Linked DNA regions of Homo sapiens. The protein of the gene in region 1 purifies or fractionates together with the protein of each later gene. This does not show direct contact. Each region holds a gene or a part of one and is shown in the gene's direction. Other genes may lie near its edges. The genes, in order: ELMO1 and POMGNT2.

What was found.
Region 2: the proteins of ELMO1 (region 1) and POMGNT2 purify together in Homo sapiens (co-immunoprecipitation; 2 studies listed by BioGRID and IntAct, with this or other methods). This does not show direct contact.

The regions. Positions count from the first base shown.
Region 1 is NC_000007.14:37,445,573-37,453,164, reverse strand, and holds the start of ELMO1 (engulfment and cell motility protein 1), read left to right. Parts: upstream 1-4,300; 5' UTR 4,301-4,490; intron 4,491-4,586; exon of another isoform or gene 4,587-4,678; intron 4,679-7,592. UniProt on the Homo sapiens protein: Involved in cytoskeletal rearrangements required for phagocytosis of apoptotic cells and cell motility. Acts in association with DOCK1 and CRK. Was initially proposed to be required in complex with DOCK1 to activate Rac Rho small GTPases.
Region 2 is NC_000003.12:43,078,558-43,082,195, reverse strand, and holds the end of POMGNT2 (protein O-linked-mannose beta-1,4-N-acetylglucosaminyltransferase 2), read left to right. Parts: intron 1-659; 5' UTR 660-764; coding exon 765-2,507; 3' UTR 2,508-2,962; downstream 2,963-3,638. UniProt on the Homo sapiens protein: O-linked mannose beta-1,4-N-acetylglucosaminyltransferase that transfers UDP-N-acetyl-D-glucosamine to the 4-position of the mannose to generate N-acetyl-D-glucosamine-beta-1,4-O-D-mannosylprotein.

The DNA.
Region 1 (7,592 bases):
CACATAAAATACACTAGCACTAATGATGAGCTAAAAAAAAAATCACAAAAAAACTCATAATGTTTTAAGAAGGTTCACAATTTTGTGTTGGACTGCATTCAAAGTCGTCCTGGGCCACATGCGGACTGTGGGCCGTGGGTTGGACAAGCTTGATGTGAACCTTCATACAAAGTTAACTGTTTTTGCTTAGAATCCTTCCTCATTACCAACCTACTTCCTTTTGTCTTTTTGTCCTGGATAACACCTCCTCACTCACCCTTCAGGTCTCAAATCAACAGAACTTCCCCAGGAGGCTTTTCCTGACTTACAGATGATGTTAGCATCCCTGTCTCCGCATAGTCCTGCAATCTTCTGTCCTTCTCCTAATATTATACTCCTCACTTGTTTTTATGGCCATTTAAAATCTGTCTTCTGAGCTAGAATGGGAGTGCCAAAAGGGGGCAAGCCATGTTTGTCTTGTTCGTGATTGTACTCTCCCTTCCTCCCTTTTAAACTCACATTTAAAGCATTCAGTGCACGTTGAATTAATGAACGATCAAGTGAAGGAATGCCCTCTCACAGCAGCCCTCCGTGTCATTCTGCTTGTTCCAGGGCTGACCCTAGTGGCTCTAAATTGCAGGTGTCTGCCTGCTGCCCAGATCTCATTATCCCTGGTGTAGCGGCTTCCTGGAGCTGAGGCAACTCTCTATGTCCCCAGAGCTGTTTGAAGACTGGAGGCAAACCAGCATGAGCCTGATTCTAACACAAGAAAAGGGAATAGATTTGTCAAACTGTAGATCAAGGAATTTAGTGCTGATTTGGAGCAGAAATTTGGAGCAAATTACTGAATGTATTATTAAATGCACAGGATCCATTTAGAATCCAATGTTTAAAAATTAAATTAGAAATTAATATTTATGAGCACTTAGGAAGGAGTTGATCAATGTGAGTCATCATTGATTAAAAATACAACAGGCCATTATTGCAGTTTGGGGTTTCATGGTGACACTTTGCATGGTGACATTTTGATAGGATCTCAATCCTCCTAGTTTGGAATTTTGTACACACAAGGAAAGATAAAGACATGGGAAACACAAGATCAAAGTATTTAAATATGAGAAACTGCCCCAAATACCTCTCTGTCCATTAACAATTCAAAGCTTTCTTATAGAAACACGGTGGGGGAATGAAGCTTAGACTTGAGGCTTAAGTGATTTTGATTTTCCAGCCATCTGTCCCTACCCTGCTCTCTTTTCCTCTACTTATCCTGAAACTAAGACAGATGGTTCTACAGAGGAGATCCTGAATCAGTCTCCCTAACCACTTGAGATGTGGATGAGGCTGGCCTGTCTGCACAAAGGTCTAAGTTCTGCCCAGGTGGGCTTACCAGAAGTGCAAGTGAAGGGATGCACTTGGATTCTGTTCCTTGCTATAAAATGGCCGTCCTCACTGCTAAAGCATGACCTAATGATTGAATGGCCCAAGCTGTGACCAGGAGCTGAGAAGGGACAGTGGCAACAGATCTTTCTCACCATTATGGGTGGAGACTGACATGTGAAAAGAGGGAGTGGATGTTGCTCTTTTATTTTTTGAGTCTGTTAATATGACTTGTCCATTGAAGAACTATTGTAGATAATAATAGCTAACATTCAATGAGTGTTTCTATGTGTTAGGCCCTGTTAAGAATTTTTCATGAATTAACTCATTTAATCTTCACTTAACCGTATCTGGCAGACATGGTTTCAATCTCATGAGTTAAGAGTAATGCAGCCAGTAAATGGTAATGGTGGGATTTATACACAACAACCAGGTCCAAAGATGGAGCCCACATACATGACAACACCACATATTCCACTTTATTGCATCCATTGCTGACCACCAGCAGAGCTGAGGGAGAAGGCGGGTTCCTCTAAGACACTTGACAATACTTCTAAGATGTCTTTATGAATAGAAGAGAAAATTGAAGTTTGGCAATTGCACTGTTAAGCAGTTTATTAATAACCAGTGAACCAAAGAATGCTATTCTCCCAGCTTAGCAGAGGGAGCTCCTTAGTGGGATGTCATGTGGCATCTTAATATTTTAATGTAATCCATGGATATGGGGAGACACTGGATGCCTGAATTAAATCCTAAGGGACTTAGAGAAAGTGGATCAGGAACTTTGGTTCCAAAGATCAACTCCATGTTCCCGCACATGGCCTAACCGTAACACTGTAAAGAATTTCCAGTCTTCCCCTTGCACTCCTATCAACACTGAGATGTATTTGAGAAAAAAAAAAAAAGAGAGAGAGAGAGAAGATCTCAGGCTGTATTGTGTTTGCTAATGGTTAATTACGTAATTAATCTATAAGACTACTTTTTTTTCTTTTTTTCTTTTTTCTTTTTTTTTTTTAAAGGGCAGAGACAGATATTCTTCTGGGAGAAGATGGCTCAAATGAGAGAGACTTGAAGCCATGTCACATGAAGAAGAGTCAGAATAATTGAGGATGGTTAATCCTCAAAAGAGAGTGTTTAGGTAAAATTTGAGGGCTGACTTCAAAGATCTGAAAGACTACTTCATGGAGGAAAGATGTGAAGACCCGGGACCAAAGGTTACAGGGGAGTGGATTTGCATAATTGCTGTGCAAGGAGGGAACAATTATGACAGCTAATGTTTACTGAGTGCTCACCACGCATGCACTAAAGTTAAGGTCTTTATATGCCTTAGCTACAAGGTTGTAGATCAAATTCATACTTATCACTACAAGTGTCTCAGAGCATCGTTAGTAAAGGCTCCATTTACTGACTACTTATTAAATTACTTCATTTAATAGTTGGTGCTATTGACTTTTGTTATTATATCATTACTGTTTTATAGATGAGGAAATACAGAAGTTAAGTTGCTTTCCTGCAGTCACCCTGCTTTAGTTACTGGCTTATAACCATCTGGACCCAGGCACTCTTGATACTAATACTGCCTCCCAGAGTCATGCGTATAATAAGGAGTTAGATCAGAGCTGTTCATTAAAAGTATAAGGTGAGCCACTAATGAGAGCCTATGTGTAGCCTTACATTTTCTAGTAGCTACATCAGAAAATGTAAAAAGAAACTGGTGAAATTAATCTTATATATGCTTATATCTTAACCCAACACATGACGAATCCAACTGACTTACTACATCAGACTATTCTCATGTATTGCAATAATGTAATCAACATAAACATACTTAACAAGTTAGTTTACATTCATTTTAAAAATACTGAATTGTATGTCTGTTTTACACTTACAGAACATCTCAGGGATAGCCACATTTCAAGTGCTCAACAGCTGCCTGTGGCTCTTGAGGGGGAAGATCTTAAAAGGGAGCTTAGTTTTCCACCTTGATTCTGATGCCTCCCTGCCCCCGACTTATTTCCTTTGCCAATTAGAAGAAAATGCCGAACTGCCTTTGACTTTTCCGGTAGAGCCAATGTAGGTATTTCTGAACTGGGGGAGGACAGGTGGTTCGCCTGCAACCCTCTTCCCTCCTGCCAGCTAGGCTGGGAGTTAACGTTTTTGATTTCTGCTTTGAAAATGATTTAAGTAGGTTGCATGAATTAAGTAATTTATTCTAAATATCAAATTATGGGTGGAACGTCTTGCCTTATGCAAAGTTATGCAAAATTAGGAAGTCCCTGGCTTAATTGGTTAGAAATACATCTTGTAGTTTCAATTGCAGGGTTAGTAAATACATAGATGTCGACGGAGAGGGAGGAAACTTTTTTTTTTTTTTTTTGCCACTCTGTCCAAGGGTAGAGGCACAGCGTCAAAACAAACACGTCTTAAAGTAGCGTTCAAACAGCCCACCGAAGTTTCCCCTTAATATCCGGAACCGGTTGCCAAAAATTAAAAAAGGATGTGAAAAGATGCTACTCGCTTTTGGCCTCCCGGAGATGGCGCTATGAGGGTGACGGAGTTAATTAGTGCCTCCAAACGCCGTGTGTGAGCTCATCGAAGTCATGCTCTGCACACATATTATTTATAGCAGATCTGAGGCATGCATGGTGTTTGACATTTCTGTCTTTTAAGTAGGGGGACTTCAAAAAGTCGTGGGCATCCCCCTAGGCAAAGTGCAGTGGGCAGGGACCAGGCAGGGTGCGGGCGCAAGGCGAACGCGCAGACCACGAGTGTCCTGGCGCAGGTGCCGGGGGCGGCGGCTGCAACTCCGCAGCGTCCGCTCGGGAGGAGAGTTCGCGGCTGATCTCCGGATGCCTTGCAGATGCAAAATGTGTCTCTGGCCAGCAGGAGGAAGGAAGAGGAAGTGAGAGCAGCGGCAGCCGGCGGTGCAGCAGCCGGCCGACCCAGAGTGTAAGTGCGTGTGCTGGGGCGAGCGGGAGCGGGCGAGGATGGGCACAGGATAGAGGCAGAGCCACCCACGCCGCCGCGGCCCCACGCTGGGCGACAGAGCCTCCAGTTCCCCTTCAATGGTGGCGGGTCGCCGGAGCTCTGATCGCCGGGAACCCTTGCCGCTGCTGTCCTGCGACCCCAAGCAGGTTCGTAAAGTTTCCTGGGCTGGCGCCGCGCCCCGACTCGCTGACCTCGGCGCGGCAGGGGAGGGGGCCGGGACTGGGGCCGGGAGGAGGCGTCCTGCTCCGGGGGACTCCGGGCGCCGCGGAGACACTTTTGTTTCCTCCCTGGGGGCGCCGCGGCTCGGGCGGGGGTGGCCGCCGCGCTCGGCAGGGTGAGGGCTGCGGGCGCGTCGGGGCGCTCTGCAGTTGGGGAAGTCTGAGCTCCGGGGATGGCGGGAGTGGGAGTGGGAGCGGAGGGAGGGGGCGCTGGAGGTGCGGCGCCCGCGGATGAAGCGCAGGGCCCGGGGCCCGGGAGCCCGCCGAGACATTTCGACCAGGGTCTGCGGGAGGGGGGGCGCGGGAGGGTTGCGACGCTGGCGCGGGGTTACTGGGGACGGGGGATGTGGGGCTGGGATCTTGGAGTCAAGATTCCTATAGAGCTAGAGAAGCGGCTGCGGCTCAGACTCGGCGTCTTCTCCTGCACTCGGGGATGGGAGGGAATCCCCCGGCGAGCGCGCTCGTGGGAGGGGGCGGTGATGGGCCAGAGGAATGGGGGCCAGGAGGGCCGGAGAGGGCGGTCTGGGCAGCCGGGAGCCCCTGAGGTTCTGGTTAGTAAATACTCTCCTCCCGGGGACACACCGGGGTCTCCGCCGAGACCGAGAGAGGCGGCGGGGAGCTTTGTGGAGCTTCGTGGAAATCTCGGCTTCGGAGAGGGGACGCACCGGGCGCGCCTTCAGAGAAGGGGGCGGCGGCATGCCAGGGGGCCCGGGAATCGGAGCGGAGAGTGGCGACTGCGATCGCCGGAGTCGCTTTGAGGAAGAGGAAATACAGAACTCAGCTGTCCCGGGGGTGCGCGCGTGTGTTTGGGGTTGGGAAGTCGGTGCTGTGCCGCGAGCGCGCGCGAGGCGGCGTGTGTGTGTGTGTGTGTGTGTGTGTGTGTGTGTGGTGTGTGCGCGCGCGCGTATGTATGTGTGTGTGGTGTGTCGTCGGTGTGTGTGTGAGTGTGTGTGTGTGGGGGGGGTGTTGTGGGTGTGTGTGTGAGTCGGTGTGTGTGTGTGTGACCGCACAGCCAGGAACTCCCCGCCCAGTGACCCTCTCCCGCCTAGGGGGCCATTTGAAGTTGGAGGCGGGTCGGGACCTGCCTTGACCTAAAGGACCAGCCTCAGGCTTGGTCCCAGGTAGTGACCCAGCTCTGAGAGTCCCTGGACGGCTCCCGAGACTCAGTGAATATATTTGGGATGCCCCCCGCGCTGGATCATGGGCTTCCCAACACCGCTGGCCTTGAATGATTCGGGCCTAATTCGTTATGGTTAAGATTTCAGATAATCTAAGACGGGTTGAGGCCTCCAGAAGCGGAGGCTTCCTGTTGGGCGCTGCCAGTGACTTGGGGATGAAGCTATGGAAGAATATCTGAGTGTTTCTCTTTTGCTTCTATAAAAGTAATTAATGACCTGTATTTACACACCAAAACCCTGCGAGCAACTTTGGGACATAGAGGGATATAATCCTTCTCAGAATCACTTTGAGATTGCAAAAACCGGCAGCAGCTATTATTGGGGTCTCCTCTGGCCAGGGTTCTCATATTATCTCACCTCCATGCCTACTTTCCAAGGTTGTTTCAAGCATTAATGTCCCATAATTTACAGATCTGGGGGAAAATAATGGTAAGTTAGGAGGCCAGATCCCCTGCAGAAACATCACATATTTTTAATTTTTCTTATAGCTGACCTTTTGAAGCTTTACTCTTTATTATTGTACATTTCCTATCTCTGGAAGGCTGTGGTTAAATGTGCATGCTGCCTTGTTTCTACTCTGTTTTGTTTGTTTTTATTAGGTTGGTAAATTTTGAGAAAATGACCTGGACTGCTGGGACTCTTGGGGAGGGGTTGTGTCAGGAGGGTACTGAACTGGAGAACAAGAAGTATGGTAGGTATCAGGGAGGGGCAGGCTCGGAGGCAGACCCGGATGGGAGTCTGGGGAAACTCAGGGCCTGGAGCAGTCATTGGGCAAGAAGATGGGCAGTTCTAGTGATGGTCATGCTTACTGTCCTTGGTAACTGCAGGCACCCTCACCGTCTTACATTCTTCTTTTTCACTGAGTTCTCTCCCTAGGGCCTTTGCCCATGATATTACAGGAGGAGCTTTTCTCCCACATGTCCAGATGACTCACTTCCCCTGCTTCTTTCAGGTCTCTGTCCAGTTGTCAGCTTATAGGGGGCCTTCCCTGGCTACCCCATATAAAATAGCAGCCAGACACTCCCTGGGCCTCTTATGTTACTCAGTTTTTTGTCTTAGTACCTTTTACTCCCTGGCATTATACAGTCATTGGTGTATTTTGAGTATTGTCTCTCTCCCTGTTAGAGCAGAAGTTCCATGAGGGTAGTGACTACCTTGTCTTGTTTACAGCTCCAGAACCTGGATGGATTCTTAGCATGATGTCGGTGCTCAATAAGTGTTTGTTGACTGACTAAATGAGAGGTGGCTATACTGGGAGAGATCCACCAGGGAAATATACCAGGAAAATGTTGCAGCATTAGTGCAAGTGAGAAGCCCAGGTAATGGGCTTTTGCTTTTTTCGCTGTCCTTTCCCCCATGCCAGGCCACTCTTCTTTTAGACTCTGTTCTGCCTTGAGTAGACTCCTCCCTTTTTCTGCCTGAAGAAAGGAACAGAGAGGTGATTCCTTGGGAGATTAGATAACCAGTACACTTAATGACACATAACCATTCCAGATCTGGTGTTTCATCACTCTCCTTGGAGAAGGTCTTTTAAAGAAGTCTGTGTTGCTTTAGCCTAGGAGGAAGGGCATGATTGTAAGGGGATTGAAGTCAGAGGCATCTACTGTGTCCCATTCTGCTCTCCTACAATATGGAAGTGAAGACAGGAGGCTGTAAGGGAGGCTGTGTGGCAGATGCAGGGGAGATGAGAAATGCCTAGGAGAAGAAAAATAAAAGTGAGAAAACATTAAGGTGTTCTGCAGGTGCAGCTAAGTCTTGAACATTTACTAAATTACTATATTGAAAAGAAGCTAACTCTTGAGTGTTTCAAAGTAATTTAACCCCTTTGGGTGTTTGGTGTGAGTGGGTGGGG
Region 2 (3,638 bases), on another chromosome or scaffold:
AGGAATGTCAGGCCCCTGCAAGGGATTTTCCTATGGCCTGTCTTTCCTATGGCCTCTCTTTGTTAGCTTTTGCTGCAGCAGTGCTTCATCACAAACAGCCCCAGAATTTCAGGGATGTTTAATCAGCTGTTGCTCAGCCCTGATGTCTATGTGTTGGCTGATCTTGGCTGCGTTTGGCTGATCGCACTGCTGCTCTTGGCTGGGCCCACTCAGTCATGAGGGATCAGCTGAACTAGAACAGGGCATGGCCGGAGCAGTTCTGCTTCATGCGTATCTCGCTCCTCTTGGGGCCAGCAAGTTAGCCTGAATACATTCTTCTTATGGCAGTGTCATAAAGAGGGCAAGGCCAGCCCAAACACTTTCCAAACCTTTGATTATGTTCTGTCTGCTGACATCTCACTGGCCAAAGCAAGTTAAATGGCTAAGCCCAAAGTCGGGTGTGGGGATGCACTTTCCAACATGGAGGCGATGGGGAGGGAGAGAATATTTTAAACAATGGTCTAATCTACCACGCCTACCAATGTGCACAATGGCTGCAAGGATCCAGTGCTGTAGCGGGCACACAGAGCCTAGCTACCGTGCCTGGCACATAGCAGGAGCTTGTAATGATGCCAGGAAGACTGCCAATTCCTTTTTCTTTTCCTTCTCTCCTCCTGCAGGCTTTCACCAGTTCTCAGGATGCCCATAGGGATGGGTGAAGCCTGCCTGGCCTGTGGTGCTTCCCAGTGGCCGTCATCTCATTAGGGCCCCACAGTGGCATTAGGATGCACCTCTCGGCGGTGTTCAACGCCCTCCTGGTGTCGGTGCTGGCAGCGGTCCTGTGGAAGCATGTGCGGCTGCGTGAGCATGCAGCCACACTGGAGGAGGAGCTGGCCCTCAGCCGACAGGCCACAGAGCCAGCCCCAGCACTGAGGATCGACTACCCGAAGGCACTGCAGATCCTGATGGAGGGCGGCACACACATGGTGTGCACGGGCCGCACGCACACAGACCGCATCTGCCGCTTCAAGTGGCTCTGCTACTCCAACGAGGCTGAGGAGTTCATCTTCTTCCATGGCAACACCTCTGTCATGCTGCCCAACCTGGGCTCCCGGCGCTTCCAGCCAGCCCTGCTCGACCTATCCACCGTGGAGGACCACAACACTCAGTACTTCAACTTCGTGGAGCTGCCTGCTGCTGCCCTGCGCTTCATGCCCAAGCCGGTGTTCGTGCCAGACGTGGCCCTCATCGCCAACCGCTTCAACCCCGACAACCTCATGCACGTCTTTCATGACGACCTGCTGCCACTCTTCTACACCCTGCGGCAGTTTCCCGGCCTGGCCCACGAGGCACGGCTCTTCTTCATGGAGGGCTGGGGCGAGGGTGCACACTTCGACCTCTACAAGCTGCTCAGCCCCAAGCAGCCTCTCCTGCGGGCACAGCTGAAGACCCTGGGCCGGCTGCTGTGCTTCTCCCATGCTTTTGTGGGCCTCTCCAAGATCACTACCTGGTACCAGTATGGCTTTGTGCAGCCCCAGGGCCCGAAGGCCAACATCCTCGTCTCAGGCAATGAGATCCGGCAGTTTGCACGGTTCATGACAGAAAAGCTGAACGTGAGCCACACAGGAGTCCCCCTAGGCGAGGAGTACATTCTGGTCTTTAGCCGAACCCAGAACAGACTCATTCTGAATGAGGCAGAGCTGCTGCTGGCACTGGCCCAGGAGTTCCAGATGAAGACAGTGACAGTGTCCCTGGAGGACCACACCTTTGCTGATGTCGTGCGGCTGGTCAGCAATGCCTCCATGCTGGTCAGCATGCATGGGGCCCAGCTGGTCACCACCCTCTTCCTGCCCCGTGGGGCAACTGTGGTAGAGCTCTTCCCATATGCTGTCAATCCCGACCACTACACTCCCTATAAGACGCTGGCCATGCTGCCTGGCATGGACCTCCAGTATGTAGCCTGGCGGAACATGATGCCAGAGAACACAGTCACACACCCTGAGCGGCCCTGGGATCAGGGGGGCATCACCCATCTGGACCGGGCTGAGCAAGCCCGTATCCTGCAAAGCCGTGAGGTCCCACGGCATCTCTGTTGCCGGAACCCCGAGTGGCTCTTCCGAATCTACCAGGACACCAAGGTGGACATCCCGTCCCTCATTCAAACCATACGGCGCGTGGTGAAGGGCCGGCCAGGACCACGGAAGCAGAAGTGGACAGTCGGCCTATATCCAGGCAAGGTGCGGGAGGCACGGTGCCAGGCGTCAGTGCATGGCGCCTCCGAGGCCCGCCTCACTGTCTCCTGGCAGATCCCATGGAACCTTAAATACCTGAAGGTGAGGGAGGTGAAGTACGAGGTGTGGCTGCAGGAGCAGGGGGAGAACACCTACGTGCCTTACATCCTGGCTCTGCAGAACCACACCTTCACTGAGAACATCAAGCCCTTCACCACCTACCTGGTGTGGGTCCGCTGCATCTTCAACAAGATCCTCCTGGGACCCTTTGCAGATGTGCTGGTGTGCAACACGTAGCGAGCAGGCCACAGCCTGGCCTCGGGAAGGTGGCTCCTGCAGTTCAGCGTCCCTGGGCCCATTAATCCCACTGTGGAGACTTCTGGGAACTATTTATTGAGCAGGCCTGTGCCTCCACATCATCTTGTTGTCTCTGGGGTGTGGTGTCACAGCACTCCTCTTTGCCCTAGAGATAAGGGACCTGACTTCCCCTTCTCCCATCCTGAACATTTGTACCCCTGGAGAAGTTCCTTAGCAGGGAGGAGGAAGAGGAGAGGAGGAAGCAAAGAATCACAAGGAACCTCTGGCTAGGTGATCCTGATGTTTCCTACTGAGTTTTTCTGGTATCCAGATTTCTGGAAACCGAGTAATCATGTACTGTTTGATTGGGTGGTTCATCTGCTTCCATCCCAGTGAAATTTACCTGTAGCCCAGTGAAGGGTGTGTTTGGAACATTCATTAAATGATTCTAAGCATCTTGGTCAAGTCTTCTTATTGGATGGGAGGAAGGGGAGCTGGTCGTCAAAACCCAGGTGCCCTTTAATCTTGATTGTTAGCTAGGGAGACGTGGCAATGGGAAAGCGCCCAGGATGGCAAAGTGAGCAAGCTGGTTGGATTTCATCTTGACTAGCTGGACTAATATCACAGTTCCACCTACATGGGATAAAAGCCTAGAAGTAGGTAGGAGAGGGCTGAGGGGAGGAAGAGCTGTATCCACCATGGGTTTTTTTTTGGGCTCAACTAGACATTAAGACTCGCAAGACCTGGACAGATCATACCTGGCATCAGAGTTTCTTAGAAGGATGGAGAGAGATGCTCAGCATGCCAGCAGGGCCATGTCAGCAGTTCCCTTCCACAGGAGCAGTCCTTACATCAGTACTCCTGAGGGCCACCTTGATTCAGAAGCCCATGCCCCATAGGAGTCAATGTGTTTTCAACAACCCACAATCAGAGTTCCCAGGGTCCCTCAAGGGACATGCCCAGTTATGAGTTTCTGCACTTAGGGAAGCCTAAGGCCATGGTTTCTTACCAGATGGTATAGCTTATTCTTTGTCCTTCCAGCCCAGGTGTAGCTTATCAATCAGAGGTCAAAAACTCCCATGGGCAGTTTGGCCTAATACTGTACCTGACATTCAGCTAACTGGCTTGTCT